4 separate regions of the Homo sapiens genome follow, and regions 2, 3 and 4 are each linked to region 1. The links come from fine-mapping of genetic effects on gene expression. A gene starts in region 1. Each other region holds a variant in brackets. All regions are shown on one strand. Distances are between the middles of the regions.

What was found. PIP is the estimated chance that this variant, and not a neighbour inherited with it, causes the effect. A credible set is the group of variants that fine-mapping cannot tell apart.
Region 2: its variant is the best candidate, but not a certain one, in a credible set for the expression of PARM1 in whole blood (TOPMed, PIP 0.51).
Region 3: its variant is the best candidate, but not a certain one, in a credible set for the expression of PARM1 in lung (TOPMed, PIP 0.78).
Region 4: its variant is the best candidate, but not a certain one, in a credible set for the expression of PARM1 in tibial artery (GTEx, PIP 0.59).

Annotation. Positions count from the first base shown.
Region 1 is chr4:74,929,319-74,937,235 of GRCh38, forward strand. PARM1 (prostate androgen-regulated mucin-like protein 1) reads left to right here and starts at 3,798. Exons shown (of 4, transcript NM_015393.4): 1 at 3,798-4,052. The coding sequence starts at 4,010. RefSeq lists silencers at 3,632-3,941, 4,522-4,571 and an enhancer at 4,682-4,731.
Region 2 is chr4:75,087,985-75,095,901 of GRCh38, forward strand. No RefSeq gene overlaps it. Among named protein-coding and RNA genes, the nearest start is that of LINC02562, 7.2 kb to the left of the region's middle. The variant G/A (reference allele first, on the strand shown) is at 4,010.
Region 3 is chr4:75,035,720-75,043,636 of GRCh38, forward strand. All of the region lies in intron 3 of PARM1 (prostate androgen-regulated mucin-like protein 1), which reads left to right. It overlaps LOC107986289 (a long non-coding RNA gene), which reads right to left. Exons shown (of 3, transcript XR_001741728.2): 3 at 1,336-2,080. Among named protein-coding and RNA genes, the nearest start is that of LINC02562, 45 kb to the right of the region's middle. The variant C/T (reference allele first, on the strand shown) is at 4,522.
Region 4 is chr4:75,336,904-75,344,820 of GRCh38, forward strand. No RefSeq gene overlaps it. Among named protein-coding and RNA genes, the nearest start is that of LINC02483, 13 kb to the right of the region's middle. The variant G/A (reference allele first, on the strand shown) is at 4,466.

The DNA.
Region 1 (7,917 bases):
TCCTTCAAAGTTTTATTCTGTATAAGTATTTCTCAGTTTCTTACTTTGTAACATTTGGATAATAATAGTATTTGGGGGGAGAAAAGATAATTTTTCTCTCTACCCCTTATGAGTTCTAAGCTGGGATCCCCTATAACAAAAGACAGATTAACAACAACAAAAACCCCACGAGGTTATTAACATGTATATTTCATATATATGTACAGGAGATAGTCAGGGAATTAGTAATTTTCAAAGAGGTGACTTTGAATTCAAACTTAAATATCATCTTCAGCTGAAACAAAGAAAGAGGAGTATGGGGGTAGGGGTGCAGTTATGAGGAAGTGACCAGGTAAAGCATGGCAAACAAAGGTAAAGTTTGTTATGCGTATTTAAGTCAGAGCCCTCTCCATTGATAAGAGTTTCCAGTAATTTAGTGCCATCCTTTTCTTCCTAGAATTCAGAGGAAGACATTTTTACAAATGAAAATTTCCTTTATAGATTTAAATTCACCCTACAAAAAGGTAATTCCACTCTGTTCTCAGAGTTGCTCCTATAGCTGCTGTTTCTCAAACAAATGCTTATACTGAAAAGGCATATTCTGAAGTGGCACATTCTGGTCTTCTACAGTATCTATCTCACAAAGTTAGAGTGTAGAAATGTAAACACATGACTGTACATAAAATGCTTGAAACAATTAATAAATTTTCATCATTATTATTATTGTAGCATTTAATATAATGTTATTGCATATGTCTTTGTGATTATTCATTCAATGTTTAACTCCCCACTACTAGAAAATAAGTTTCCTGGTGCAGGGACAATTAGCCCCTGTGGCACATATCACAATGTTCCCTGCTATAGAGTTCTCGTCTCTATCTGAGCACGCAAAAATAACATGCTTTCTTGCTTTCTTGAAGTTGGGCATGGCCATTGACTTGCCTTAGCCCATAAAATATGAACAGAATTGTCACTTTTAGGTGGAAGATTTAAATACTTAATTCTCCACTTCTCTCTTTCCCTAACTCAGTGGATGTGAAACTGTTAGAGGTGGATGTGAAACTGTTAGAGGTGGAAGTTATTTGAGTCACCGGCAGAGACTGCAGCAACCTCAATTCTTGCCTCGGAAGGAAGAATATAATTGAGGGGCATAAGGCAGAATAAGAGACTGAGGCAAGTTTCAGAGCAAGAGTGGAAGTTAATTAAAAAGCTTTAGAGCAGCAAGAAAGGAAAGCACAGTTGGAAGAGGCCTAAGAGGGCATCTTGGACGTCAAGTGCCCCATTTGACCTTGCACTTAGGGTTTTACATGCTGGTCTACTTCTGGCGTCTTGCATTGCTTTAATGCCCCCAGAAGGTCATATACCAGTTAAACTCCACCATTTTGCATCTTAATGCACATGCTTGAGTTCAGTCACCCACCTCCTGAGATCTTATTGGAAGCTGCTGATTACCAGTTTCATGTGTTCCCTATTTATGGGGAGATGGTCAGTCCCTCGTGCCAGCTGTAACCAATTATTATTTTAGAGAGACAGTTAATAACTGCCTGGCCATCACATGATGGTTACCTGACTTTCCTGGTGGGGTGTGGGGGGAGCCCTCTGCTGCCCCACTCATGCCTATCTAGCTACCTACTGTAACAAAAGCAGGTTTCGATATGGCGGTACAACACTGATCCTGAGGACAGCTACTCTGAGGAGTAACCTGGATCCATAGCAGACTTTGATGAGCAAAAAATAAACCATTATCGCTTAAGCTTGGGAGACTTTGGGCTGGTTTGTTACAGCAGCATAACCTACACTACCCTGGCTATTACAACCATTGTATTTCCATTGCCTAGCATAAGGGCTGGCGTAAAATAAGTGATTAAATATGCTCTGACTAAATTAATTAATAAATTAAAATTTTTAATCAGCAATTAAAATGAACTATTTTAATCAAAGAAATTATTTCAACTCTATCCTGCGTACAATAGAAAAGTTTTGGAAATTTTCACTGATTAGTGTGTAGGGGTCATGATTCTTTGAGTACCAAACCATTATCTTAGATATCAAGGTTAGAGTTGCACATGCTTCGCACTCCAGAAAGACTCCTTCAAGTTTTGCTGAATTTCAATTGAATAAATTTTTTCTGTGAAGTGGTCTTCAAAAACCTATATTTCTGCCATAGAGTCACTTACTTAACCTGCCCTATTTAAAGGGGCTAATGCCTGATAGAATGTCGCTGCATAACTCCATCTGTGTGTGGTCCCTGCATCCATGACAACCAAAACCCAGATGCAGAAATTGTTCCTAATCACATAGATTACCCTAGAAACCGGAAGGGCCTTGAAGTCAAAAGCATTCAGAGAACATGCTGAACAAATTGAATTTGCAGTTTATCTGGCCAGGGAGGATGGAGAGGGGATGGGCACTTGGTCTGAGTATTTTTTGTTTCTCATTCCAACAGAAATTACTAGATTTACCAAAACAAAGAGAAAAAAATATGATCCAAATTTAATCTGGTTGTGGAAGTGTGAGCAAAATCTACAAGTGGTAGTGTGATAGAGTCAGGCAGAGGAATTGACCATAGATAAGGTGCTCAGGACTCCTAGAGTCAGCTTCTGGTATGTGAGAAAGAAGTGAGAACAGAGCCCATGGCATATGAAGAAGATATTACAGAAAAAAGAAAGCTGCCTTCCACGCAAATCATTTCTTTACAAAGGCTTGTTAACTCCTGCAGTGCCCCAGCTCTAGTGACTAGGGGACCAATAGGTTCATTAATAACAGAATTGGGAGAGAACCTGGCATCTGCTTTGATCGAAGTGTGAGAATTAAGCAAGCCTAAAGTGTAGCAAGAGCAGGGAGGGAACTGAATGAAAGGTCAGTTCTAATCTGTAGGCTTTGGAGAAGCTTTGGGCTCTTGAGAGGGAGTAGAGTACAGAGGCTGAGCGGGGTGCCTGGGCAGGCATCTTATCATTACTTGCGAGTTGTGTGAACTCGGGCAAGTTAAACTTCTCTGTGCTTCTACTTTCTCCCCTGAAAACGAGGATATAATCTCCAAGGATTGTTGTGAGAACTAAATGACTTGGTTGATTCCTGAACAGCACGTTGTCCAGTGCCTAGCACATAGCAATCACTCAGGAAACGTCAGCCTTTATTATGGGCCTAGTGCACAAACTATTCTTACCAGTTATGCGACCTTGAGAACATTGTCTTCTCTGTGCCTTCATTTTCTCACCTGTAAAATGGAATAATAATAATTCTTAGAAGGATTCATGAAACAACGCCTAGTAGGGTGTCTGGCTTAGTTATCCCCCCGACAGTATTTTCTTCTAGTAAGAAGCTGAATGCAGCGGCAGACATCCTGGTTCGGGCCCCAGGAAGCTCAGCCGGGTTTAATGTGGATGAGGGTTTAATGATGTACACGCAGAAGTGTTTTGACAAATGAAGAAGGTCCTCATTCTTGGAACATGTGCCGGTTCTCCGAGGGAACTCCTAAAATGGCATAAGGTCACCTTTTTAAAGGCTGTAAGCTCATGTAGGAAAAGCTGAGCTAGATTCCTAAGGGCAGAGATGTGCTCACATTTCTTTGCATCCCTAGTTCCCAGCACAGTGCAAGGCGCTGCAAACATTTGCTGAACCCAGGGTCTCGTGTCTTGACTGTCCAGCAGAGGCCGCTCTGGGCCGGGGCTCTCGGGACCTGAGGGCTGAGAGAAGGAAGGCCAGGGGGTGGCCCAGTCATCGCCGCGGGGCCCGGGTGGGAGGGGTTTGGCAGCGGCAGGCGCGGCGGCGGCGGCGGAGGCGGAGGCGGCCCCGGGCTCGGGCGGCTGGGATGGAGCAGAAGAGCGCGGAGCACCGGAGGGCACGCAGCTGACGGAGCTGCGCTGCGTTCGCCTCGTTTGCCTCGCGCCCTCCACTGGAGCTGTTCGCGCCTCCCGGCTCCCACCGCAGCCCACCCGGCAGAGGAGTCGCTACCAGCGCCCAGTGCGCTCTGTCAGTCCGCAAACTCCTTGCCGCCCGCCCCGGGCTGGGCACCAAATACCAGGCTACCATGGTCTACAAGACTCTCTTCGCTCTTTGCATCTTAACTGCAGGTAATTGGCGCCATCCTCCCGGAAGGGCAGGTCGCGGGGTGGGCCCCAGTAGCTAGCGCGTGGTCGGGGCTGAAGCTAGGAGATCCGGCAGTGAGTCGCCGCGCGCCTCCGGGTGAGTGCGCAGGTGTGTGCGCACTTAGATTTGGGGTGACGTGCACCTTTGGCGGTCCCGAACCGTACTGAGGGAGGGGACGATGGGGTCCTTCCTGCCGCAGCCCGCGCCCGCACAAACTCCAGCTTTGTAGAACAGGTGGCTGTCTTAGCTGCGTGTTCGAACCCAGAGTGGGCAACACGGACTGCGCCTCAAGGCTTCTCTTTCTTCACCAGGGTTTCGGAGCGCACTCTGCCAAAGTACGGGACCAGACTTCTTGTTGCCGTTGGGCCCTGGAAGGGATGAAAAAGCCGGGGAAGTGGGGGTGGGAGGTTCGCATCTGGGAAGGCTTCAGCAGCGGCTGCGCGCCTGGCGGGGCTGGTTTGCTTTCTCGAGTCTTGGCGGTCTCTGATCTCCGGCGTCCCTTCCTAGTTATGCTTAGGATGATGTGGCACTAACAGCAGCGGCCCGGCCTTGGTCAGGCTCGCAATCGTCACTGGGGGTAGCAAGGCTACCTTCTGCCCCAGAACTCCCCAAAAACGTATCCCATAGAAGAAACTATTAACTTGGCTAAACTAGCATCCTCTCCCCTCCCCCTGCACCACCTCTGAAAGGCTTCGTAGGAGCCACTCTCGGGTTTCGGGACCACAGACGGCGACGACCTCTGGCAGCGGGGATGGGGAAGAGGGGAGCCAGATGACTGAGCTCGGCTTGGCGGGGACCGGGGAGAGATTCAGAAAGACGCTTTGAATCTAGAGTTCAGGTACCTATTTTTTCCAGAAAACGTCTCCCGAAAAGGGACAACTGGCTGTGGATATGGTGCTGCTGGGAAAAGTAGCCCGACTGCGCGGCCACTGGCATTTTCAGTTTAAATGTGACCCAAAGTCACATAGCGCAAACCGATTCTACTCGTGCTTTAGTCTGTATATCCTCCCTCTGAGTTCGTCGGGTTCCTACAGTTGTGGACACGAGTCGTCGCAATCCCTTGAAAAGAAGCTAGCGGTTTTCAGGCAGCTCACAGTGGGTAATGCAGTTATAAGGAAAAGTTTCCCAACTTGAAACTATAGCGTATTTTCTCTACTTAGTGAACGTCCGTCTGAGAAAACCTCTTTCTCGCTGGTATCTCGGCACGGTTTGGAGACGCGTCCGCGGACAGTTCCCGAATACTCGCAGGCGGCTTTGGCTGCCCAGCCTCGGGCTGAGATGAGAGAGCCTAGGTCCGGCAGGTGCAATAGGCAGCGGAGCTCCCGGCTGGCTGCGGGTGGTAATTCCTGTAATCCTCAAAGCAGGAGATGCTTACGTAATGACACGGAAGGTACCTTTACTTCTCCTCACTCAAAAATCTTTTCTTGAGGTTCAGAAACCCTTGAGTGAGTCAGTAGAGAGGTTCGTTTGCAAATTTGATTTAGTGGCTTGTCTTGTTTATTTAATCATTTCCTTTTTTAAACAGCTCTGGCAGTTGTCAAAACCGGGATTAACCCTAACAAACAGTGTATTGTAGCTTCCCCACCCCCACCCCAAGAAGCTCTTTTTTCTTTTTTTTTTTTTTCTTTTTTCTTTTATTCAGCGTTACAGTTTAGCTCCGCTATTCCGGGAGGAATATCACCCTTGACCCACCGCTAGAGCGAGGAGACTGGTGGGCCAGGGACCGGCTGAGCACCACTCCTACCCCCACGCACTAATTAGGATCAGAGCCCAGATGGTCACAGCCTTCCAGCTGTGAGGCTCGAGACTCAGGAAGACATACTGCCTCATTTCCCTAGTTATGCTTCGATATGCATATCCCAAGCTGAAAATGATGAAGCTAATGGACACTGCATTCCCCCTGAAGTTTGTGCCTTTGAAGGAATCTCTTTAAGACGTCAGTTTGTTGTTAGAGCTACTTTGCAATAAATCGTCCGAAAAAATAATATAAAAATTGGCATAAATACCTCATGAGATTCTTTGCACCTTAATTTTAAGGTGTTTTCAGAATGTAAAATATCATTTTTAAAGAAAAAAATAGACGTGTTGGTAAAGAAGAAAGGGATGAGGGCTCTTGAAGTGAAAGTGCACACACATGTGTTTTGGGGGCTTATCCCAGAACTCCCCTAGCAAATCTCTAGTTAGTTTCACCAGGCCTTGTGTCTTTTCTGTTTCCTTCTCATTTTCCTCCTCTAGCCATAGGCTTCAACAATATTTCTGTAAAATTCTTAAGGTGATACTTTCTTGAGCCAGGAACAGCATTAGGCAGGGGCCTGTTTTTTGGCTCAACAAATCCTCTCAAAGTATACATAGTATTTCCTCCAGCACATACAATGGACACTTGCAAATATGTGTGCGTTGTCAACAAGCCAACAAGGGTAGATCTCTACATGTATTCACTCGGGTATATATAAATATATTTATATATTTTTAGACAAAGGGTCTAGCTCTGTCACCTAGACTGGAGTGCAATGGCGCGATTCCAGTTCCACTGCAACCTCGGCCTCCCCATCCTCTCATCTCAACCTCCTGAGTAGCTGGGACTACAGGTTCACACCACCATAGGCAGCTAAATTTTTTTATTTTTTGTAGATATGGGGGGTATTCCTATGCTGCCCAGGTTGGTCTTGAACTCCTGAACGTAAGTGATCCTCCCACCTTGGTCATCCAAAGTACTGGGATGACAGATGTGAGCCACTGTGCCCAGCCTCACTTCTATTTCTAAAAGGAGAGAGAAATCTTAGATGGTCTTCAGTTCTCTCAAGGTTGATTATGGTAGAAAACTAGATGTCTATTCTATAAACCATTTTCAAACACTTCTTATGCCAGGATAAGGCATATTGGAGTACTGATTCCAGATTAAAATACAAACCAGAGCCTCCAACCTTTATCCCCAAAACCAAGAAGGGAACGAGAATGGCAGGCCCCTGGTAGCTTCCACATTTATCCCTCTCCTGCTCCCCTCGGGATTCTCTTCCTTTGTTCTTGCCACCATGGTTGTTACATTCAAGTGTTTTTTTTTTGTTTGTTTTTTTGTTTTTTTTTTGAGATGGAGTCTCTCTCTGTCTCCCAGGCTGGAGTGCAGTGGCGCGATCTCAGCTCACTGCAAGCTCCGCCTCCCGGGTTCACGCCATTCTCCTGCCTCAGCCTCCCGAGTAACTGGGACTACAGGCGCCCGCCACCACACCCGTCTAATTTTTTTTGTATTTTTAGTAGAGACGGGGTTTCACCGTGTTAGCTAGGATGGTCTCGATCTCCTGACCTCGTGATCCACCAGCCTCGGACTCCCAAAGTGCTAGGATTACAGGTGTGAGCCACCGCGCCCGGGCACGTTCAAGTTTTTTATGGCCCTATTTATTTAAAAACTCCCTCAGTGAAGTATGAGATATGTTAGAACTTTCAAAGGCATTTTCTGAATACTCAAGAAGGACAAAAAGGAAGGACACTAGGTAAGAGAGGCACAAACCTCATGGTCCTATTTCTACCGCCCTGGGTCTGCTCTGTTTGCCCCTGTCTCCTCTCAGGACCTTCCACCCATTACCCAGGCACCCTGCGCAGACGTATTGGTCCCTTGGTGATTAAGATGTAGATCACCAGAGAGCTAGATTCCCAGTCTGCCACTCAGCTAGGGATCCTATTTGTGTTCTGGATCTGGTAGATACCTCTTCTCCAGGTAACTAACATCTAAAATGTCCTTATCCTTGAAGGAAGACTTACTTCACCCTGCACATTTATGACTCTGTACTTGATATATGTCAGCTTAGTAGCCTTATCACACATATATTAAAATACACAAAATTGTGCACACAC
Region 2 (7,917 bases), 160 kb after region 1:
CTACAGATTTTGGACTTGCCAGCCTCCAGTCATATGACTCAATTCCTTAAAATAACTTTCTCTCTCTCTCTCTCTTTCTCTCTCTCACTCTCGCTCTTGCTGTCATTCTTGTTTCTGTTTCTCTGAAGAACCCTGGCCAATACAGTCAGTGTCAAGTGAGCTTCTGGAACACAAAGCCTGAGAGAGGAGCTGCCAGGAGGAGGAAATTCATTGCCTGCCTCTCAGGACACACATTCAGGAGTTCTCAGAAAGACTTCTGAAGAGGAAGAGAGAGGAAGAGTCCATAGTAAACACCTGCCCAGGTCAAAGAATGCACAGCCATCTAACAAAAAGGCCCATACAGTTAGAGTTTTTCTATCCCTGTTGCTTCTCCTTCTTATATCACTACACCCCTCATCCCCACCACCACACCAATCCTGGTAAAGACAGAAAGCCACAATTAGCAAGATAAAAACAAGGGGATGGAAGCCTAACTTGAGAAAGGAAAGAGAAGGGTGATACCTCTCCTTCCTTGCCTTCCTGCCTGAAGAAAACCACCAGCCAAGGGAGTGGAAATACTTTAACCTTAAATCAAGGTCAGAGTTTGGATCATTCCTTGGGACTGGATGTCTCAATTTCTGAATTGAAACTGTGATTGTGACTATAACATTATTTTTTATTGTTATTATGTAAAAGTAAACCAGGGCGGGGAAACACTTTCTCCACTGAATATATTTTATACAGACAGTGGGAGATTAAAAAAATAAATAAATGTGCTTTTCTAATACATCCCAAGAGTCCTACCTGTTCAATGTGCCACTTATACAAATATTACTTTTTATGATTGAAAAAAAAGCCAGTATTATATTTTCAGTATTAATTTAATGAATATTTTCATATCACATAAATTCTAGTTTAATATATTATGTTACACTAATAATGTCTTTTATATGAGAATTTCTGTGATAAATTCTTCCAAAAATAAATTTAGTCTCCCCCAAAATTAGACTTTCCAGAAATATATATTTTTAAATTTACAATAAAAATCATAATACCTTTACTCCAACAAATATTTATTGCCAACAAACTACATGCTATCCATATGCTAATAATAACAAACTGGATATTGCTTCTGCCTTGTGAGGCTCACTTGCTGGTAAAGGAAACAGTCGTTACATAAATAAACACAGAATTACAAATTTTAGTAAGCACTTAAGGAAAAGTATTATGTGAGAATAAATACAGAATAATAATTTAGATCAATACATTTGGAAAGTGTCCCTCTGAGGAAGTGACATTTGAGCCTAGATCTGGATGATTTGTAGACGTTAATTAGGTAGAGAGAATCAGAACCTAGGAGAAAAGCTTCCAGATAGACAGAAGAGAGTGCCCCAAGGTCATGATGTGGAAATCCCTGGGTATACACAAGAAAGCATGCTGGATTGTAAACAGTGGAAGGGAGTGTTATGGTAAAGGAGGTTGGAGAATCAGTCAAATCATGCACGCCTTTGTAGGACGCATTGTAAGGTTGGATTTCATCATAAGTTCCCGGAGAAGCCATCAAAGGATTTTGAGAAAAGAAAAGACATCCAGGCATATGTTGTTTTATTGCACTTCACTTTACTGTGTTTCTCAAATATTGCATTTTTTTTTATAAATTGAAGGTTTATGGCAACCCTACATTGAGCAAGTCTATTGGTGCCATTTGTCCAACAACATATGATCAGTTTGTGCCTGTGTCACATTTTGGTAATTCTTGCAATATTTCCAGCTTTTTTCATGATTATTATATCTGCTATAGTGGTCTGTGATCAGTGATCTTTGATGTTACTATCACAATTGTTTTAGGATGTCATGAACCATACCCTTATAAGATAACAAACTTAATCAATAAATATTGTGTGTGTTTTGACTGCTCCACTATCAGCCTTTCCCACATTTTTCTCTCTATTCTCTGGTCTACTTAATCCCTGAGACATAACAATATTGAAATCAGGCCAACCAATAATCCTACAATGATCTCTTAGCATTCAAGTGAAAGAAGAGTCTCATATCTCTCATTTTAAGTCAAACTCTAGAAGTGATTAAGCTTAGTGAAGAAGGCATGTTCAAACCAGAGATAAGCCAAAAGCTAGGCCTCTTGCACCACTTAGCCAAGTTGTGAGTGCAAAGGAAAAGTTCTTGAGGAAATTAAAAGTGCTACTTCAATGGACGTGTAAATGATAAGAAAGCAAAACAGCCTTATTCTGGATATGGAGAAAGTTTTAGTGGTCTAGAGAGAAGATCAAACCAGACAAAACATTCCCTTAGAACTAAGCCTAATCCAGAGCAAGGCTCTAACTCTTTTCAATTCTGTGAAGGCTGAGAGAGGAGAGGAAGCTACAGAAGAAAAGTTGGAAGCTATCAGAAGTTGGTTCATGAGGTTAAAAGAAAGAAGTCATCTCCATAAGTGAAGTACAAGTAAAGCAGCAAGGTGCTGATGTAGAAGCTACAACAAAGGTGCTGATGTAGAACCTACAACAAAAGGTGCTGATGTAGAACCAACAACAGAAGGTGCTGATGTAGAAGCTACAATAAATTATCCACAAGATCTAGCTAAGATCATTGATGAATGTGGCTACACTAAACAACAGATCTTGCAATGTAAATAAAACAGACTGCTACTGGGAGAAGAGGCCATCTAGGGCTTTCATAAAGAGGACAAGTCAATATCTGCCTTCAAAGTTTCAAAGGACAGGCTGACTCTCTTATTAGGGATTAATTCAGCTTGTGTCTTTACATTGAAGCCAATGCTCACTTACCATTTTGAAAATTCTAAGGCCCTTAAGAATGATGCTCTTAATAAATCTACCCTGTCTGTGCTCTTCAAATGGAACAACAAAGCCTAGATGGCAGCACATCTGCCTATAGCATGGTTTATTGAACATTATGACCACTCTTGAGACCTACTGCTTAGAAAAAAAAAATTCTTTTTTGAAATATCACTGCTCATCGACAATTCACCTGATCACTCAAGAGCTCTGACAGAGATGTACAAGGAGGTTATTGTTGATTGTCTGCTTGCTAACACAACATCCATTCTGTAGCTTATGGATCAAGGGGTAATTTCTAATTTCAAGTCTTCTTGTTTACAAAATATACTTTATAATGCCATAGCTGCAATAGAGAGTGATTTGTCTGATGGACTCGGACAATGTAAATTGAAAACCTTCAGAAAAAAGTTCACCATCTAGATGTCATCCAGAACATTTGTGATTCATGGGAAAAGGTCAAAATATCAACGTTAATAAGGGCTTGAAAGAAATTAATTCCAACTCTCATCAATGAGTTGGAGAGGTTCAAGACTTCAGTAGATGAAGTAACTATAGATATGGGGGAAATAGTAAGAAAACCAGAATAAGAAGTGGAGCCTGAAGGTGGGATTGAATTGCTCCAATCTCATGATCAAACTTTAACAGATGAGGAATTGCTTCTGACAGATGAGCAAAGCAAGTGGTTTTTTGAGATGAAATATACCCCTGGTGAAGATATTGTAGACATTGTTGGAATGACAACAAAGGATTTAGAATATATTTATAACTTTATAAGTAATAAGATTTATAAGTTTATACTTCATTGATAAATCAGAAACAGACTGTAAGAAGATTGACCCCAATTTGAAAAAATTTCTACTGTAAGTAAAATACTGTTCAACAAAATACTAACAATATCACAAAGCTACAGAGAAAGCTTTCATGAAAGGAAGAGTCAATAAATGCAGCAAACTTCGTTGTTATCTTATTTTAAGAAATTGCTATACCCAGTCCAACTTTCATAAGTCACCACCATGATCAGTCAGCAGCCATCAACACTGAGGTAAGATCTTCCACCAGCAAAAAGGTTATGACTTGCTGAAGGCTCAAAAGATTGTTAGCAGTTTTTAGCAAAAAAAAGTTTTTGTTTGTTTGTTTGTTTGTTTTGTTTTGTTTTGATTTTGAGACGGAGTCTGCTCTGTTGCCCAGGCTGGAGTGCAGTGCAGTGGTGTGATCTC[G/A]GCTCACTACAAGCTCTGCCTCCCAGGTTCACGCCATTCTGCTGCCTCGGCCTCGCAAGTAGTAGCTGGGACTACAGGTGCCCACCATCACGCCCGGCTAATTTTTTTTTTTTTTTTTTTTTTTTTTTTTTTTTTTAGTAGAGACAGGGTTTCACCGTGTTAGCCAGGATGGTCTCGATCTCCTGACCTCGTGATCCTCCTGCCTCAGCCTCCCAAAATGCTGGGATTACAGGTGTGAGCCACCGCACCCAGCCAAAAAAAGGTTTTTAACTAAGGCATGTATGTACATTTTTTAAGACATTATTCTACTGCACACTTAATAGACTATAGGATTGTGCAAACATAATTTTTATATGCACTGGGAAACCAAAAATTCCTGTGAATCACTTTATTGCTTTATTGTAGTGGGCTGGAACTGAACTCATAATATCTCCAAAGTATACCTGTATTTTGATTTAGTCTCACTTTTTTAATTTTAATTTTTAATTTTTTGGGGTACATAGTAGATATATATATATATGGGGTACATGAGATACTTTAATACATGCATGTAATGTGAAATAAGCACATTATGAAGAATGAGGTATCCATCCCCTCAAGCATTTATCCAATGAGTTGCAAACAATCCAATTACACTCTATGTTATTTTAAAATGTACAGTTAATATAGTCACTCTGTTGTGCTATCAAATAGTATATCTTATTCATTCTTTCTATTTATTATGCATTAACCATCCTTACCTCCCTTCAAAACCCCCTACTACCCTTCTTAGCCTTTGGTAACCATCCTTCTACTCTCTATGTCCATGATTTCAATTATTTTGATTTTTAGATCCCACAAATAAGTGAGAACATATGATGTTTGTCTTTCTGTGCCTGACTTATTTCACTTAACATAATGATCTCCAGTTCCATCCATGTTGTTGCAAATGACAGGATCTCATTCCTTTTATAGCGGAATAACACTCCATTGTGTATATGCCACATTTTCTTTATCCATTCTTCTGTTGATGGGCACTTAGGTTGCTTTCAAATCTTAGCCATTGTGAACAGTGCTGCAACAAACATGGGAGTGCAGATATCTCTTCATTATACTTATTTCCTTTTTATGGGGTATATACCCAGCAGTTAGATTGCTGGATCATATGGTAACTGTATTATTAGTTTTTTGAGGAACCTCCAAACTGTTCTCCATAGTGGTTGCACTTATTTACATGCTCACAAACAGCGTACAAGGGTTCCCTTTTCTCCACATACCCTCCAGCATTTGTTATTGCCCATCTTTTGGTGAGAAGCCTTTTTAACTAGGGCGAGATGATATCTTACTGTAGTTTTGATTTGCATTTCTTGGATGATCAATAATTTTGAGCACCTTTTCATATGCCTGTTTGCCATTTGTATATCTTCTTTTGAGAATTGTCTACTCAAATCTTTAGCCCATTTTTTTTTATCAGATCATTGGATTTTTTTGCCTGTAGAGTTGTTTGAGCTCCTTATATATTCTAGTTATTAATCCCTTGTCAGCTGGATAGTTTGCAAACATATTCCCCCATCCTGTTAGTTGTCTCTTCACTTAATTTATTGTATCCTTTGCTGTGCAGAAGCTTTTTAACTTGATGTGATCCCATTGGTTACTTTTTGCATTCATTGCCTGTGTTTGTATGGTATTGCTCAAGAAATTTTTGCCCAGACCAATGTCCTGGAGATTTTCTCAAATGTTTTCTCACAGTAGCTTCATGATTTGAGATCTTATATGTAAGCCTTTAACCCATTTTGATTTGACTTTTGTATATGGCAAGAGATAGGGGTCTAGTTTCATTCTTCTGCATATGTATATTCAGTTTTCCCCACACCATTTATTAAAGAGACTGTCTTTTTCCCAGTGTATGTTCTTGGCAACTTTGTGGAAAATGAGTTCACTGTAGATGTGTGGATTTTTTTGAGTTTTCTGTTCTGTTCCATTGCTCTATGTGTCTGTTTTTATGCCAGTACCATGCTGTTTTGGTTACTACAACTCTGTGGTATAATTTGAAGTCAGGTAATGGTGATTTTTTCACTTTTGTTCTTTTTGCTTAGGATAGCTTTGGCTATTCTGGGTCTTTTGTGGTTTCATATAAATTTTAGAATTATTTTTTCTATTTCTGTGAAGAATGTTATTGGTATTTTGATAGAGATTGCATTGAGTCTATAGTTTGCTATGGGTAGTATGGATATTTTAACAATATGAACTCTTCCTACCCATGAAAATTGAATATTTTCCATTTTTTGGTGTCCTCTTTAATTATTTTCACCACTGTTTTATAGTTTTTATTATAGAGTTCTTTTATTTCTTTGGTTATTTTCCAGATATTTAATTTCATATGTGGCTATTATAAATGGGATTATTTTTTGGTTTCTTTTTCACATTGTTCACTGTTGGCATAAAAATGCTACTTATTTTTGTGTGTTGATTTTGTATCCTGCAACTATATTGAATTTATCAGGTCTAATAGTTTTCTTGTAGCATTTTGAGGGTTTTCCAAATGTAAAATCATATCATCTGGAAACAAGGATAATTTGACTTCTTCCTTTCCCATTTGGGATGTCCTTTGTATCTTTCCCTTGTCTGATTGCTCTAGCTAGGACTTTGAGTAATATGTTGAATAGCAGTGGTGACAGTGAGCATCCTTGTCATGTTCCAGATCTTAGAGGAAAGAGTTTTAGTTTTTCTCTGTTCAGTATGATATGAGCTGTGGATCTGTTGTATGTGGCTTTTAATATATTGAGCTACGTTCCTTCTAATCCCAGTTTGCTTGGGGAGGGGGTTAACATTAAGGGATGTTGATGTTTATCTAATGCTTTTCAGCATCAATTTAAATGATCATATGGTTTTTATCCTTTATTCTGTTAATATAATGTATCACAATGATTGATTTGCGTATGTCTAACCATCCTTGCATCTCAGGGATAAATCCACTTGGTCATGATGAATGATCTTTCTAATGTATTGTCAAATTAGGTTTGCTAGTATTTTTTCTGTTGAGGATTTTTTTTTATTATATTTTAAGTTCTAGGATACATGTGCAAAACATGCAGTTTCGTTACATAGGTATACATGTGCCATGGTGGTTTGCCGCACCCATCAACCTGTCACCCACATTAGGTATTTCTCCTAATTTTATCCCTCCCCTAGCCTGCCACCCCCCACCCGCCCCAGTGTGTGATGTTCCCCTCCCTATGTCCATGTGTTCTCATTATTCAACTCCCACCAATGAGTGAGAACATGTGGTGTTTGTTTTTCTCTTCTTGTGATAGTTTGCTGAGAATGATGGTTTACAGCTTCATCCATGTGGGACATGAACTAATCTTTTTTATGGCTGCATAGTATTCCATGGTGTATATGTACCACATTTTCTTTATCCAGTCTATCATTGATGGGCATTTGGGTTGCTTCCAAGTCTTTGCTATTGTGAATAGTGCCTCAATAAACATACATGTGCATGTGTCTTTATAGTAGAATGATTTATAATCCTTTGGGTATATACCCAATAATGGGATTGCTGGGTCAAATGGTAATTCTAGTTCTAGATCCCTGAGGAATTGCCACACTGTCTTCCACAATGGTTGAACTAATTTACACTCTCACCAACAGTATAAAAGCATTCCTATTTCATCACATCCTCTCCAGCATCTGTTGTTTCCTGACGTTTTAATGATCACCATTCTAACTGGCGTGAGATGGCATCTCATTGTGGTTTTGATTTGCATTTCTCTAATGACCAATGATGATGAGCATTTTTTCATATGTCTGTTGGCTGCATAAATGTCTTCTTTTGAGAAGTGTCTGTTCATACCCTTGCCCACTTTTTGATGGGGTTGTTTGTTTTTTTCTTGTAAATTTGTTTAAGTTCCTTGTAGATTCTGGATATT
Region 3 (7,917 bases), 110 kb after region 1:
TAATATCACCTGCGTCTACGATACAAAGAACAGGAAAGCCAGGTTTTGAAGAGAAATTGGAATTAAAGGGCCCGCTTGACCTGTTTCTAATAAAACATTTTATAAAAGCATCCAGAAGTTTCCCCCAGATTTAAAAAAAATATTTCTCTTCATTAAGTCTGCATGTCCTTGAGCACTAAACTTAATTTTATAAATTATATCTTACTGAATGATACCTTTTTCCATCTGGTTTAATTATTAGTTTATTGCTGCAGATACACCGTATTTTAATTACGAGTTAAATTGGCTTTTATGAACTACTCTGGGAACCTCGTTTCCATTTTATAACAAAGTATCTGTTGAAAAACATGTTCTGCCCCTCCTTCCCAAAAAGGAACTTACACATAAATTTTAGAGTCATTTTAGAATCACCAATGATGAGTTCCTAAGAGGCTACATTATCAAAAATACGACCTTCACTGAAGTGTGGAGTGAAATAGAAACACTTCCTTCTTGCTACACACTTCCCCAAAATGGTGCTGAAATAACTGGAAGGACTCTTCCTCTTCACTTTGGCAAGAATTCAAGTTTACCACCTCTAAACCCACACTGGCTATAGGCAGGCAGTCTAAAATAGTGATTAACAATTCAGACTCCAGAAGCAGGGAGCCCTCAGTTCAAATCCTGGCTCTACTACTTCCAGCACTGTGACCTGGGCATGTCACAGAGCACCACTAACCCTCATTTCCCTCACCTGTAAAATAAGGGCAGTAGTTTCTACCTTGTAGTGTTGTTTGGAAGCAAGTATATAGCACTGCCAACATCATCATCATCATCAAAGTGGTAGACTGGAAGGAGCCCCAGGAAGACAGTCCTTGATAGATAGCTGTAGAGCGTCAGCCATGTGCCAGGCCACATTAGTGATGTGACACAGTTCTGCCATCACAGTACTTACCATGTTTGGAAAATTTTGTTAGCAGGCCATTACAATTTGCTCTGATGAGTGCTGATTAAAATTTTATTTTAAGCTATATTTTCCCCAGGCGTTCAGAGCACCAGATAAATTAAGTAAATGATTAAATTGAATAAATCATTATTCTTCTTCCCCATACAGCTTCTGTCTCCTAAATGTAGTAAGATATACAGTGGCATAAATATAAGGTTGCTATTTATCTATTATGCTACTTAAGTTTAAGCACTATAAACTTAAGAATGGATACAGTTATTAGACCCTTAAGGGGTTTCAGAAACCCCCTAAGGAAAGCCCCTTTCTGCTTCTCTATTAATTATTTTGGTAAAATGATAACATAAGGAGATTAATCGTTGTTATGAATCTTAAGGCTATGCTAAAACCCCTTCAGCTGTTATTTTGCCAGGTTGTCGGAAAGCCCCATTAATCGTTCATCAAAAATACTTTAATTGACGTGTGTGTGTGCATGTATGTTCCTAAGGATAGGCTTTGCTTTGGTTGGGAACTTACTCTTCTTTCTTCATCCCAGATTTCTAAAAACAATAACATAACAAAAGATCTGTTTTCTGTGGTCTTTTAGCTTGTTTGGCTGGAGCAGCGAGTGACTAAAATCACAACCCATAGGGAGCCATTAGCTTCTGACCTGCAACCATGGGATATGGCCCTGGCCCAGCCAAGTTCTCTGCAAATGCAAGGGGAGAATCTGCTTGAAAAGGCAGCCTCATGATCAGAAAAATAGAATGCTTGGCAAGCTCTGCTAACAATGGGTGGGGACTTTTCACCTTTCTTCCCAGATCCTCATTTCCTCTAAAGGCATTGTAAACTTAAGAGCCATCTGCTTTTCACACTCCCTTTCTCCAGGGACCCATTACCCCTAGTTTTGTCACAATGACCCCTGCCTGGAGAACCACATCTTTTTGTAACCTGAGCCACTTTTGGATGTGACTTATAAAATGAACTGCCCTGAACCCAGGGCCCTTCTTGGTTTATGATCCCACCTTTTAACCAGCAGCAGTGTGGTGTGGAGGGAAGAATGTGAGCTTTGCAGTCAAGTTTAATGCTGACTCTTCTACTTACTATTTAGGCGGCCTTGGGCAAATTATTAACTCCTTGATCCTCAATTTCTTCAATCTGCAAAAAATAGAGTTAATAATATGTATCTTTCAAGGTTGTTTTAAAGACGAAATGAAGTAATGAATGCAGAGTAACTGGAGAGACTAGCATGGTGACTAAGAACATGCACTCTGGGGCAAGTTTTCTTTTTTTGAGTCGAAGTCTCGCTCTGTCACCCAGGCTGGAGTGCAGTGGCGTGATCTCGGCTCACTGCAACCTCCACCTCCCGGGTTCAAGCAATTCTCCTGCCTCAGCCTCCTGAGTAGCTGGGACTACAGGCACACACCACCACACCTGGCTAATTTTTGTATTTTTAGTAGAGACGGGGTTTCACCATGTTGACCAGGGTGGTCTCGCTCTTCTGACCTGGTGATCCGCCCACCTTGGCCTTCCAAAGTGCTGGGATTACAGGCGTGGGCCACTGCGCCCAGCCTGGGGCAAGTTTCTTAATCACTTTGTGCTCAGTTTCTTCATGTAAAATGAGACTATAATAATAATAGTACCTAACTCAAGATTGTTACAAAGATTAAATTATGATACATATAAAGGTTCAGTGCCTGGTATGAGGTGAGGATGATGGAAGGTCAATTACTGTTACTGCTGTAGTTTTTAGAACAGTGCTTAGCAAATAGGGACTCAGTAAACTGGTAACCACCAACACATAGGCTGTGAGGTTGGGAGCACAGTCTCCATCCTACCATTTCCATTCAGTAGGCGTAGGGATTCAAAGGACAGGGGAGAGAAGGAGGGGGAAGATGGCACAGCAGCTCATTTCCTAATTGAATATTGATATGGCGGTCTTCCATGTTCCAGTTTGGCAGTTTCGTTAGTGCTATTCTGAAACGTCTGTGAAGTTGAATCCATGTTACACATTTATAAATGGAAACTATCTCTGAGCAGTCTTTATGCCAGGGCTTGTTTGCAACTTTAAAAGAAAGCAAAGGCCCTGTCTACCTTTTGCAGAACTATCTTTAATTAGTGATGATTGAAGAATGAGATAAGTCTGTTTTGATTTGTTTAAGTTGGCTCAAAACTGTTCAGCCAAGACATAATCTCCCTGCACAGGAGACCGTATCTGCTAAGACCAGTGATGTGGATGTTGCTGTAATTAGGTGTGCTGGTGACCCAGACAGACTACATGGGCTGTTTTCTTCACAAAAATAAATGCAGTCTTGATTTATAGACACAACAGGACCTGTCTTTTAAGACGTCTTGTTAGAAGTCACCTATTTTGCTTTATGTCTTCTAGTGATTGCAGGTTGTACAATTGGATTCCTTCTGGTTGTTAGAGTAGGCCCAGCCAGCCATAAAGGCCAAGATCTTCTAGAATTTGTTATACACAGTTGACTTTTTCAGGTCACCTTTTGGAGTTCTGTAGGTCTTGTTTACTCAATTTTCTCCCTCAGTGGTTCTTAAACTTTAATGTGCATAAGAATCAATGGAAGAGTTTATTAAAAACACAGTTTCCGGCCGGGTGTGGTGGCTCACGCCTGTAATCCCAGCAATTTGGGAGGCTGAGGCGGGCAGATCATGAGGTCAGGAGATCGAGGCCATCCTGGCTAACACAGTGAAACCCCATCTCTACTAAAAATACAAAAAAAAATTAGCTGGCCCTGGTGGCAGGCACCTATAGTCCCAGCTGCTCGGGAGGCTGAGGCAGGAGAATGGCATGAACCTGGGATGTGGAGCTTGCAGTGAGCCAAAATCGCACCACTGCACTTCAGCCTGCGTGACACAGCGAGAAAAAAAAATAAAATAAAATAAATAAACAGTTTCCTGGGTCTCATCCCCATAGATTCAGATTCAGTAGGTCCAGGTGGGGCCCTTGCATTTACATATCTAACTAGCTCAAAGGTGATGCCAGTGCTGCTGGTCCAAGGATCACACTTTGAGTAGCCCTGTTTTACCCGCTTCTAACACTCCAGTAGCCCTGTTTTACCCATTTCTAACACTCCAAACACACTCTCTGCTGTACAGTTTCCCAGATAGATTGCCCTGTTGTTTCATATATGTTTCAGATATGTTGCCCTGTTTCAGATATATTGCCTTTGTAATTTTGAACATGCTGATCCCTCTGTGAGAGGTGTTTGGTTCACCCCTTTCCCAATCTGGCTAATTTCAAGTCGTCCAGCTCAAGAGAGATCTCCTTTGGGAAGCCTTCATCCACCTTTCCATACTGAGTTCCTTGCTGTGCATGCTTCCCTCATACCATGTGCTTCCCTGTACTGCAATCAGTGCATTCTCTACCAGTTTTCTCCACTAGAACAATATCAAGTCCTTGGCAGTACCTGACGTATAGTAGTTGCTTAATGAACATTTATTGGATGAGTTCATGAGTCTGAATAGGAAAGTTTGGGGGTGCAGCAGTAACATTCGTTTACTCCTAATCAAGAAGAACCAGGGTTTGGGGAAGGGGAAGCCATGGGAATCTGTTAAACCACACAGATTTTTACTAGCTA[C/T]GTCGTGACACTGAGCTAGTTTACAAATAAACAGATGTGCCAATGTGTAGACCTTTTCTGTGATGATTGTCTTCCAATAGTAATGCCATCTGGCAGATAATTTTTTAAATAAACAAATATGACCTGCCCCTTCAAAGCAAAGGTAATTATTTCAAGATATGCTTGAAAGTAACAGCTTTTTAAAAGAAACCCAGAGTCTGGAAAAAAAAAGGATTTTAAAAATAAATATTTGGAAATATTCCCATCAGTGAGATTTTTGTTTAAAAGATGGAACTGATAGGATTCCTTAGTTGTGATACTCACTCTGCCACTAACTTGCTGTCGTAACTTTGGGTGAATAAAATAAATTGTAATGATTTCAGTTTTCTTAGCCCCAAAATTGTGGTTCACAATATTAATTTCTTAGTTTTGACAAATGTACCACAATTATGTATCAACATTAGTGGAAGCTGGGTGAAGGGTATACGGGAAATCTTTGTACTATCTTTGCAGCTTTTCTCTAAATCTAAAATCATTCCAACATACAAAGTTTATTTTTTTTAAATTATGACTCAGTAGCTACCACAAAGATATATTGTTTGCTTTTGCCTCAGGGCCTCTGTACTTGCTGCTCCCTCTGTCTACACGGTATCCCTCGGTTATCCACATGGCTCATCCGTCATCTCCTCTATGTGTCTGCTCAAAGATGTCTTAGTGAGACCTTCCTGATCATCATATTCAGAATTACAGTCCCCACCTCCTACTGGGAACTCCTCACCACCCCACCCACTTCTTCTATTTGTTTTCTCCATGGACTTAGTAACATTCACCATGTTATTATTTGTATATTATTTACTGTGTCTCCCCACGTAGAATGTAAGCTCCCTAAGGACAGGGATTTTGATCTGTTCAGTTTATTAAGGTATCAACCAGGTGCTAGAATAGGGCCTGATAGATGGTAAGTTTTCAATGAATACTTAAAGAAGCCAGGCAGGAAATGATAATCAGAAAAAAAGAGGAAACGATGGAAACAATGAAAAGGAGACAGTGACAGCTGCATCAAACAGTTTTGTTAATGGACAACAAGAGTCTAAGGCTTAATTACTCATGGCTAATGAACTGAAAGTTCAGCTGCATTTTTCCAGCACTAAGCCATGTCTTAATCATCTTTGTATCCTTCCATATTTCTTCATATCCTTAGCACATGGTAAGCACTAATGATTGAATGGCAAGACTTGCTTGACTAAAGAGGAGAGGGCTTTGTGGGGCATAGTCATAAATAAAGGTGGAGACTTGTGGAGAACTGGGGCTGACCCTTGTAAAGGACAAGGTATTTCCTAAAATATGTTTTGTTTCAACGCAAGAAAAGGGACACTTCACTCATTTTCAAAGACAATAGAGTTTCATTAAGTATTGATGCTACAGTTATCTTTAAATAGGTACCATTTTGCAGTGTTGGAGAATACCTCAAGCCACAAATGTCACCACATCATTTACCATTTGTCACCAACAAGTGGTCACCAAGTAGGGGCAGGGAGTAGGGAGTGCTGCTTTCTATTAGGGAAGAGCCACTAGAGAAAGAGAGCAATGAGGGAAGAGTTTAAAAGAAATCATTCTTCATTTTTCCCCCTCGGGTTTTAATTTGCTTACTGCACCATATGATACAGTAGACTCACATTGACAATAAGCACAGTGCCATTGATTAACGGGCTGTGAGCACTGTGCTAAGGGCCTTAAAGCCACATCATTGCATGCTAGTCCAGCCATAATGCTCTTTTCCCTTCCTATGTTTAAAGTCAAAACAGTGACTTTGACCATCAATATTCCTTATGGGATGTTTTCATTTTTCCAATTATACTATACAATGAATTTCCATGGGCCATATTAATCCTAGCTGGTATTAGCCAAACCCCATAGACACTCCATATACACTATCTATGCTGCTGCATATAAGCAGTTATCATCAAATATTTATAAAATAACCATTATATCAACAGCAACATGTTAGGTGTTTCAGGTAGTTAGAAGAAAAGTAGGACATAGTCTGCCCTCAAGAAGTTTACCATCTAAGCGGAGCCAAGACACAGCAAAGAGAAAACATGGCTATATTGAATCAGTGCCAGTCTTTATTAAGACTTTTAGTAAATAAAATTGCTTTGACCTTACAATGACATCATTCATCCAGATTGCTGTTCAGGTTGAAATTAGATGAAGCAATGTTGCCTTATAAAGCAAGCAAAGAGACCTTGGTTTCATTAGCAGCACTACCATTAAATAACATTGACAAAGTCACCTAAATTCCTTGGGTCCCACTTTACTTATCTTGAGAATGGGAGTTGCTTTGTTTTTTGGTTTCTGATTGTCTTTTTTTTTTTAACCTCATACACTATGCAAATGCCAATCTGAAAACCTCCCCATTTCCATCCAAAATGTGCCATGATTTAAGAGGTTCTGACCTAGAGAGAAAGTTTTACATGCTCACTAATTATTGTCCTCTTATCACACGTACAAAAAATGTGTTTGTCTTACTCTTACTACAATAGTATCCAATTTGTCCAAACCTGGCTGGAATCCCAGTACACCCAATTTTTCCTGTTTAAGCTCGTTAATGTGGTAAATAAGCCCTATGGGTTCAGTACATTCCCAATTTTGGTTCATCCATATCTCTTGTATATCTTTCCTCACTTATCAGCATTTTACTCAACTCACTGTTTCCTTAATGGGAAGGAAAAAAAAAAAAACAAAGTAAAGGCCAATCTTTTTCCTTTATTTTACTAGTGTTTGTATAGGAGGTGTGTCTTACAGTATAGGAGATTCAGATATAGCATTAACCAAATAGTCTTGCCTAAAATAACCATAGCCAGTAAACCTGATAGCCAGAAGATTTTCAATCCTCTAACCCCCATTCCAACATACTAATAAACTTTAAAAATTCAAATACAATAACAATCATGTAAGAAACTGGTTTTATAACTATGCCTGGGGTATAGTTTCAAGAGTTCCCAGTGGGAGGAGGTTCACTTTTCATTCAATGACATTTTTTACTATTTGGCAGATTCACCATGTGCTTGTATAAGATTTATTATATTAAAAATTTAAAAACAATATTGGCCAACATTCATTGCACATTTGCTATGTGGCAGGCCTTTTATATTCATTACCTTATTTAATCCTCCTAACAACCATAAAGCAATTTTTTTTAAAGTTTCTCCATTTTATAGATGAAGAAACAGGGGGTTAAAAACTTATTCAAGGACATACATTTATTGACCAAACTCACATTTTATGGGAATAAAAATATATGATAGAGATAAAAATTCTGTGAGAAGTTCAATTACCATACAAGGTGAAGCAGGAGTACCCTATCAATAAAGGAGCATGTTTATTGAGTATATTTTGCCAGGCTTGTAGCAGTAA
Region 4 (7,917 bases), 410 kb after region 1:
GACATTTATGTGGCCAAAACATGAAAAACAGCTCATCATCACTGGTCATCAGAGAAATGTAAATCAAAACCACAATGAGATACCATCTCATGCCAGTTAGAATGGCAGTCATTCAAAAGTCAAGAAACTGCTGAAGAGGATGTGGATAAACAGGAATGCTTTTACACAGTTGGTACTAGTGTAAACTAGTTCGACCATTGTGGAAGACAGTGTGGTGATTCCTCAAGGATCTAGAACTAGAAATACCATTTGACCCAGCAATCCCATTACTGGGTATGTACCCAAGGGATTATAAATCATTCTACTATAAAGACACATGCACACATATGTTTATTGTGGCACTATTCACAATAGCAAAGACTTTGAACCAACCCAAATGCCCATCAATGATAGACCAGATTAAGAAAATGTGGCACATATACACCATGGAATACTATGCAGCCATAAAAAAGACTGAGTTCATGTCCTTTGTAGGGAGATGGATGAAGCTTGAAACCATCATTCTCAGCAAACTAACACAGGAACAGAAAACCAAACACTGCATGTTCTCACTCATAAGTGGGAGTTGAACAATGAGAACATATGGACACAGGGTTAGGAACATCACACACTGGGGCCTGTTGGGAGGTGGGGGGTAAGGGGAGGGATAGCATTAGGCAAAATACCTAATATAGATGACATGTTGATGGGTGCAGCAAACCACCATGGCATATGTATACCTATGTAACAAACCTGCACGTTCTGCATATGTATCCCAGAATTTAAAGTACAATTTTAAAAAAAAGGAATACAGAAAAAAAAAATGAACATAACTTTCAAAGTCAGGGCACAAAACTTTGCTAGTCATCCCTGCTATTCAACTCTCTTCCACACAGCCTTTAAGGTTCAGTCCAAGCTCTGCAACTTCATACAAATCTGCTATTCCTCCAGAACACAGTGGCCATCCTGAGCACTCTGAGTTTGAACCCGCAGCTCAAGATTTTATTTTCTCTAGTTGTATAAGATAAAGGAGGAACAAAGTCAGATGTGTTGGGAGAAGCAGGAGAAAAAAGATACTAAATCTTGGCAAGGACTTTGTTTTGCATATTACATAGGCAACCTCATTTAATTCTCACCACAATCCTATAAATAAGAATTATTCTTCACCATTTCCAAGATGAGAAAACGGAGGTCCATGCTATACTAAGAAACTTGCCTGCAGTCTAGAGCCAGTAAACATTAAAGGCAGAATTTGAATCCAGGTCTTTACCACAAAATATGCTCTGTCCTCTACATCGCAGAATTAGTTTTATCTCCTCTCCTCCTTCACCCCCAGGAACAGATCATACAAGGAAACAGATAAGAAAGATGAAGGATATGAAAATGATAGCATGTTTCAAAAGTAAATATTTATATCAGGCATCTATCAGGTGCAAAGCAGAACCCTCAGAGGTTTGGAGAAGAGAAAGGGAAGTCTACATCATGGAGGGAAAGAAAGCTGTTTATACAGCATTGGGCACTGTAGCAGATATGCTCTTGACAAAGTGAATACAACACACAGGGGGGATATTCAGAACAGAGGAGACCAGTAAGCATCTGCAGGCTGTCTGCTGGTTATACCACATCTGCCAGGTTTGGTGTAGTTTTAGTCACTAGGGCACGTGTGCTGTGGAATCCACAAGAAGAGCATGAGGATATTCATGCTCAGGAGGTCATGGTTAAATCTTCAAACAGCTAAACAGCTATCTTTTGTAAACAAGAAACTTGAAAATGTTCTGTGCAACTCTAAAAAACAAAACTGGAACTAAAGAAGGAATGCTACAGGGAGGTCCATTTCTGCCTCCTATAGGACAGAATTCTGACAGTTCATTAGAATGAATCACCTCTGGACATTGGCAGCTGTCATTGTTGACATGATTATGCAGCTTGGAAAGCCATTTATCAAGTATATGGTAAAAGAGATTCATGTATGGGGAATTAAGATTGGCCTGAAGACCTCTGAGATCCCACTCAGCTCTATAATTCTATGACTCAACTTGCATTTAATAGAGCTTTATCTCACTGCAGAGAAATTTGTATTAATTTCCTATTGCCACCATAACAAATCACCACAAACTTAGTGGCTTAAAACAACAGAAATGTATTATCTTACAATTCTGTAGGTTAGAAGTCTGCTCAAAATTCTGCAGGTTAGGTCTCATTGGGCTAAAATCAAAGTGTTGGCAGGACTGCATTCATTTCTCAGGCTCTAGAGGAGAATCCATCCCTTGCGTTTTCCAGCTTCTTGACTCATGGCCCCCTTCCTCTATCTTCAAAGCCAGCAATGGTGGGTCGAGTCCTTCTCACCTCACATTATTCTGCCCTCCTCTCTCCTTTTCTTCCACTTTTACGGACCCTTGTGATTACAGTGGACCCATTCAGACTATCTAGGACAGTCTCTCTAAGTTAAAGTCAACTATTTGGCAATCGGAATTCCATCTGCAACCTTAATTCCCCTTTGCCATGCAACATAACATACTCACAGTTTCCAGGAATCAGATGTGGATACCTTTGGGAGGGAACTTCATTCTGCCTACCAAAATGAGGTTCTGAAAAATGCCACTAGAACATTCTCCACTTCAGGAGGTCATGAGAGTTAATAACACAGGCTGTGACGCTGCCTTTCCTAAAGTTCACAGGGTATGGGATAAGGAATTGGCAAGAGTACACCAGGCCTCCATGGGTTATGTGGAACTCAGCTTCTACCTAACACAAACCAACTAAATAATATAGTAGAAAATATTTTTCTGTTGGGTAAGTTTTACCTCTTATCATAGATGCCAAATGACCTAACTGAACATTGACTCCTAAACATATATTGAGACCAAAGGCTTTAGGTAGCTAAGCAAATGAATCAACTAAAATTATCTAACAAATTATCTAACCAAGGTACCAGGCTAGTAAGAAAGGAAAAATTCGAAACACTAAAAAGCAGCTCTTCTGTCTTTTCTTTCACAACCAGAGGTCACCACCATATACTGGAAACTAGACGCAACTTTGATGCACCACTCTCACCCATAGCAGACACTCCTACTCCTTCACTCTTCCCATAGCCTGTGACAGCCTTCAGGAGTCTTCTTCAGTCTATGCCCCAGGTAGGCACTAGAAATTATCAGAGTTGGCACATGAGAAAAAAACCTATTTGCCGTCTCCTCAGGAAAGACTCTGTGTTCCGTGGGTTGGGATTTAAGACTGATGTTTTAGTAATTATTGTGTACAAGACAATGAACTAGAAATGTGCCTTCAGAAACAAAATGTACACTTATAATTTCAGCTGCCTAAGGATTACAGTCTAATAGCTCTTACTGCTATTTTGTTTCTTGTTAATACAATTCCCTATCTTATACCATACTTTGTATTTATCTAAAGTTTTATCCTTATACTACCCTGGGATCTCTTGTCATTTGAATCACAATGGAATTCCTAGTTGAAGCAGAAAAAGGAATTAATTTGCTACCATCCTCAAAAATCCAGGCATAGATTTGGCTTTGGCCCTTCCCAGGGTCTCAGATGATGCTACTGGACCAGCACTGCCCTCATCCCCACTAACCCCTCTGCCTTCCTCTGATGGCTTCATTCTCCTACAGGCTATTGCCCGTGGAGATGAGATGGCTCCAAGAAGCTCCAGGCTTACCTCTCATCTCATCAGTAGGAAGGAAAATGCTCTTTCTCTGTATCCCTCTACAAAGAACCTGAACAGAATTTACTTTTAGTGACTTTTCATTGTCCTAGCTGGGGTCATGTGCTCATCTGCAAACCAATGACTATGACAAGAGAAATGCAAGCCTCTAATTAGCCAGCCCTCAGTCAACTGTTCACTCCTGGAGCAGGGATTACATTCAGTGTCATTTGAACCACATGAAACAAAACAAAGAAAGAAATGGATCCCCCAGGGAAAATTGGTATACTGTTACCAAAGGGAAAACAGATACTGGGTAGACAGAAACATTAAACAATTACTATACTTAGGTGACAATTTGAGTCAGAATATTAGCTGCTCTCTGGTCCAGTATTAGCTAACAGCAAGACAGAGAAGAGAGCGTCATAATTTGAACAGGAATAGGGATTGGGGAGACTACAAAGCCTGGAGTACAGCCCAAGGAAGTGGGACATAAATGGGACACCACAGTACAAGGACCATGGGCAATTTGCATGATATCTTGGGAAGAAAGTCCGGAAGATATTCAACAGCCACTGAAAACGGAGGACTCACCAAATTTACAAGCCTCATTTATTTTGCCTAACCCTGAAATAACTTCTAAGAAAATAAAAAATAAAGGAAGGCAAAAGGACTTGGGATCAGGCAACCCAACTTTTAGCCCCACCACTTACCAGTGAATGGTGTTGTCTTGGGCATGTCACTTATCATCTCAAAGCCACAGTTTGTTCTTCTATGAAATGAAACTTATGGTTAATTTCTAACTCACAAAGAATTAAATGTTGTCAT[G/A]TGTGTAAGAATCATTTCTAAATGTGCTGCAACAAACCCTTCTATTCATATGCCTGTTGCAATGAGGCTTGGTGGATCCTCTCATCTACTTACCCTCCTTTTGAATCTGATTCTGAGTTGGCTCTGTGAGTTGCTTTGTCCAAAAGAATGAGGTAGAAGTGACAAGTGCCTTCTAAGGTTAGCCTATAAGAGCCCATGCAGCTTCCAGTTTTGCATTTTTGGAAAACTCCTTCTTAGAAGCCCATCACCACTCCATGAAGAAGCTAAAGCTAGAATATAGAATAAGGAGAAGGCACATACAGAGAGACTCTGGAAAATGAGAAGACATCTCTTTTATATATATATGCTTTAAGTTCTAGGGCACATGTGCACAATGTGCAGGTTTCTTATATAGGTATACATGTGCCATGGTGGTTTGCTGCACCCATCAACTCATCATTTACATTAGGTATTTCTCCTAACCCTATCCCTCCCCCAGCCCTCCACCCCCCAACAGGCTCTGGCATGTGATGTTCCCCTCCCTGTGTCCATGTCTTATTGTTCAACTCCCACTTATGAGTGAGAACATGCAGTGTTTGGTTTTCTGTCCTTGTGATATTTTGCTGAGAATGATGGTTTCCAGCTTCATCCATGTCCCTGCAAAGGACATGAACTCATCCTTTTCTATGGCTGCATAGTATTCCATAGTGTATATGTGCCACATTTTCTTTATCCTGTCTATCATTGATGGACATTTGCATTGGTTCCAAGTCTTTGCTATTACGAATAGTGTCACAATAAACATGAGTGTGCATGTGTCTTTATAGCAGCATGATTTATAATCCTTTGGGTATATACCCAGCAATGAGATGGCTGGGTCAAATGGTATTTCTGGTTCTAGATCCTTGAGGAATCACCACACTGTCTTCCACAATGGTTAAACTAATTTACACTCCCACCAACAGTGTAAAAGCATTCCTATTTCTCCATATCCTCTCCAGCATCTATTGTTTCCTGACTTTTTAATGATCGCCATTCTAACTGGCGTGAGATGGTATCTCACTGTGGTTTTGATTTGCATTTCTCTGATGACCAGTGATGATGAGCATTTTTTCATATGTCTGTTGGCTGCATAAATGTGAGAAGACATCTTGAATATGCCAATCCTAGTTGAGCTCTCAGCTAAATGTAGCTGCACAAGTGTTCTCAGCTGCATCACATCATGGAGCAAAAGAACAGCCCAGCTGACCCTGGTTAACCCACAGAATCATGAGAAATAATAAAGCATTGTTTTAATACACCAAATTTTAGGAAGGTTTACAACACAGAACTGGTGTCTGAGACAATGAGTATACATAGAGTTTCTATGGTTCTTGTCATCTTTTTTCTGCAGTTTTCTCAAAAGGAATGTTATTACACTTTAGGAAGAACAATTCCTCATTTGTGAGAAAGCCTCATGTTTTGCAGTACACTCAGCATCACTGGTCTTGCCTGCTATATTCCAGTAGTGCTCTGCAGTCACTGAAAGAATCAAAGACATCACCCCCACAGGCCTAAAATTCCCTGTTGTTAGCGAAACCCAAACAGAGCAATTACTTCTGGGAAGGTGAGTACTTCAGAGGTTAGATTCACTAATTATAAGGCAGGAATTACATTCTATCTGTATGTCCTGATTATTATGATTTGAAATACCTCTTTCCCTGGAACTTCATGCTGCCTTCAAAGAAGTGGGCTGTATTAGGCCATACCTAAAGTGAGTTTACAATGTCCATAAAATTATATCATGCTATTTGATAGTAAGCAATGCAACCAGATGTGATAAATATGGGTGGATTTGATCTTGAAAGGTCTCCAAAGAAAACTATCATCTACCACTAAGTTCAATTTATGTCAAAAACGTTAACATTCATCCTCTAATTTGCCTCATTTATTTAGTGCTTTTGGAATCTGGAGAAAATAAATAAATGAACATTATTGTTGGCTGCATGATCATCTTTGTCCTTTCCCTTGGTGGATCCTTGTAATGGAAGCGCCTGCATTTAACAGATCGACAACAAAAGACAGGGTATTATGAAATGAAACTTCTCTAAGATAAATATTACTTTCCAGGAAGCAGAGGACTTGAGAAGTGACCTGCTAAAAGAGAGTTGTCATTAATCATAAAGATCTCTGTTCTTTGTAAACACCAGGAAGGACTACAACCTTATCTGTTAATTTCACCACAGTGGGATTTCAAAGTTTATGTTTTTGTTTTTGTTTTTTTTTCCTGGAGAGTTTCACATTTCCAAGGTCAACTTCAAGGGCAAGCTTTTATTCAGTCAGTCTGAAGCATCAGCACTCCCATTTTAATAAGATATAAAATATTCTTTCTACCCAATTCTTTTTTTTTTTTTTTTTTTGAGATGGAGTCTCTGTCTGTCACCCAGGCTGGAGTGCAGTGGCGTGATCTCAGCTCACTGCAACCTCTGCCTCCTAGGTTCAAGAGATTCTCCTGCCTCAGCCTCCCAAGTAGCTGGAACTACGGGTGTGTGCCACCAAGCCCGGCTAATTTTTTGTATTTTTAGTAGAGACGGGGTTTCACCGTGTTAGCCAGGATGGTCTCAATCTCCTGACCTCGAGATCTGCCCACGTCGGCCTCCCAAAGTGCTGGGATCACAGGCGTGAGCCACCTGCGCCAGGTCTCTAACCCATTCTTTTACCCACACCCACTCCCTCTTTCTTATTTCTACCAGTTTGCAAACTCAGGTTCCTGCTGAATTATTAGTTAAAATGGGAATGTGAATTTATTTGAGCATGTCTCTGTCAGTTTGGCTCTGAGCAAAAGGTGCTAGTTTTCTGGACTGGCACACAGTATCCAAAGATGACATTGGGTGCTAAATTAGAATTTTGAACTAAGCTTCCAAAAATAACAAAATTATACTGTAAGTCCTTACATTTTCCTTACTCCAGATTGTACAGATTCCCTAGTGATCTTAGGGAAGTTAAAGAAAGAAGCAATTAGATCATTAGAAAAAATATAAAGTATTATACAAGAATATAATGGCATCTGTCTTTCTGACAGAACTATTTTTACATGGTACTACATATACAGGTTGTACAAGTGAAAGAAGCAACAGGTAGGAGTCCTCAATTTTGAAAACTAAATGCTATTTTAAGGAAAAAGAGAGAAAGAGGGAGGAGAAAAACTAAATACCCAATCTGCTAAAATTTAATCTTAAAATATATTCCTTAGAAAAGTACATTTGTTAGAATTCAAGTAGGTGACAATATGTTACTTTTTATCTTGGTCTGGTTTAGAAAAATCCTCTCCTTCATAAATAAATAGTACGTTTATACTGCTAGTATATTTTAATAGTTAACATTTGAAGTGCATATAACATTTATTTTAATAAAATTTGGTATTTTGGAAACAAGAAAAGAAAAACGTTCTTCACTATGTGATAGCCTATACTTCAAATAAAGTATCTACAGTG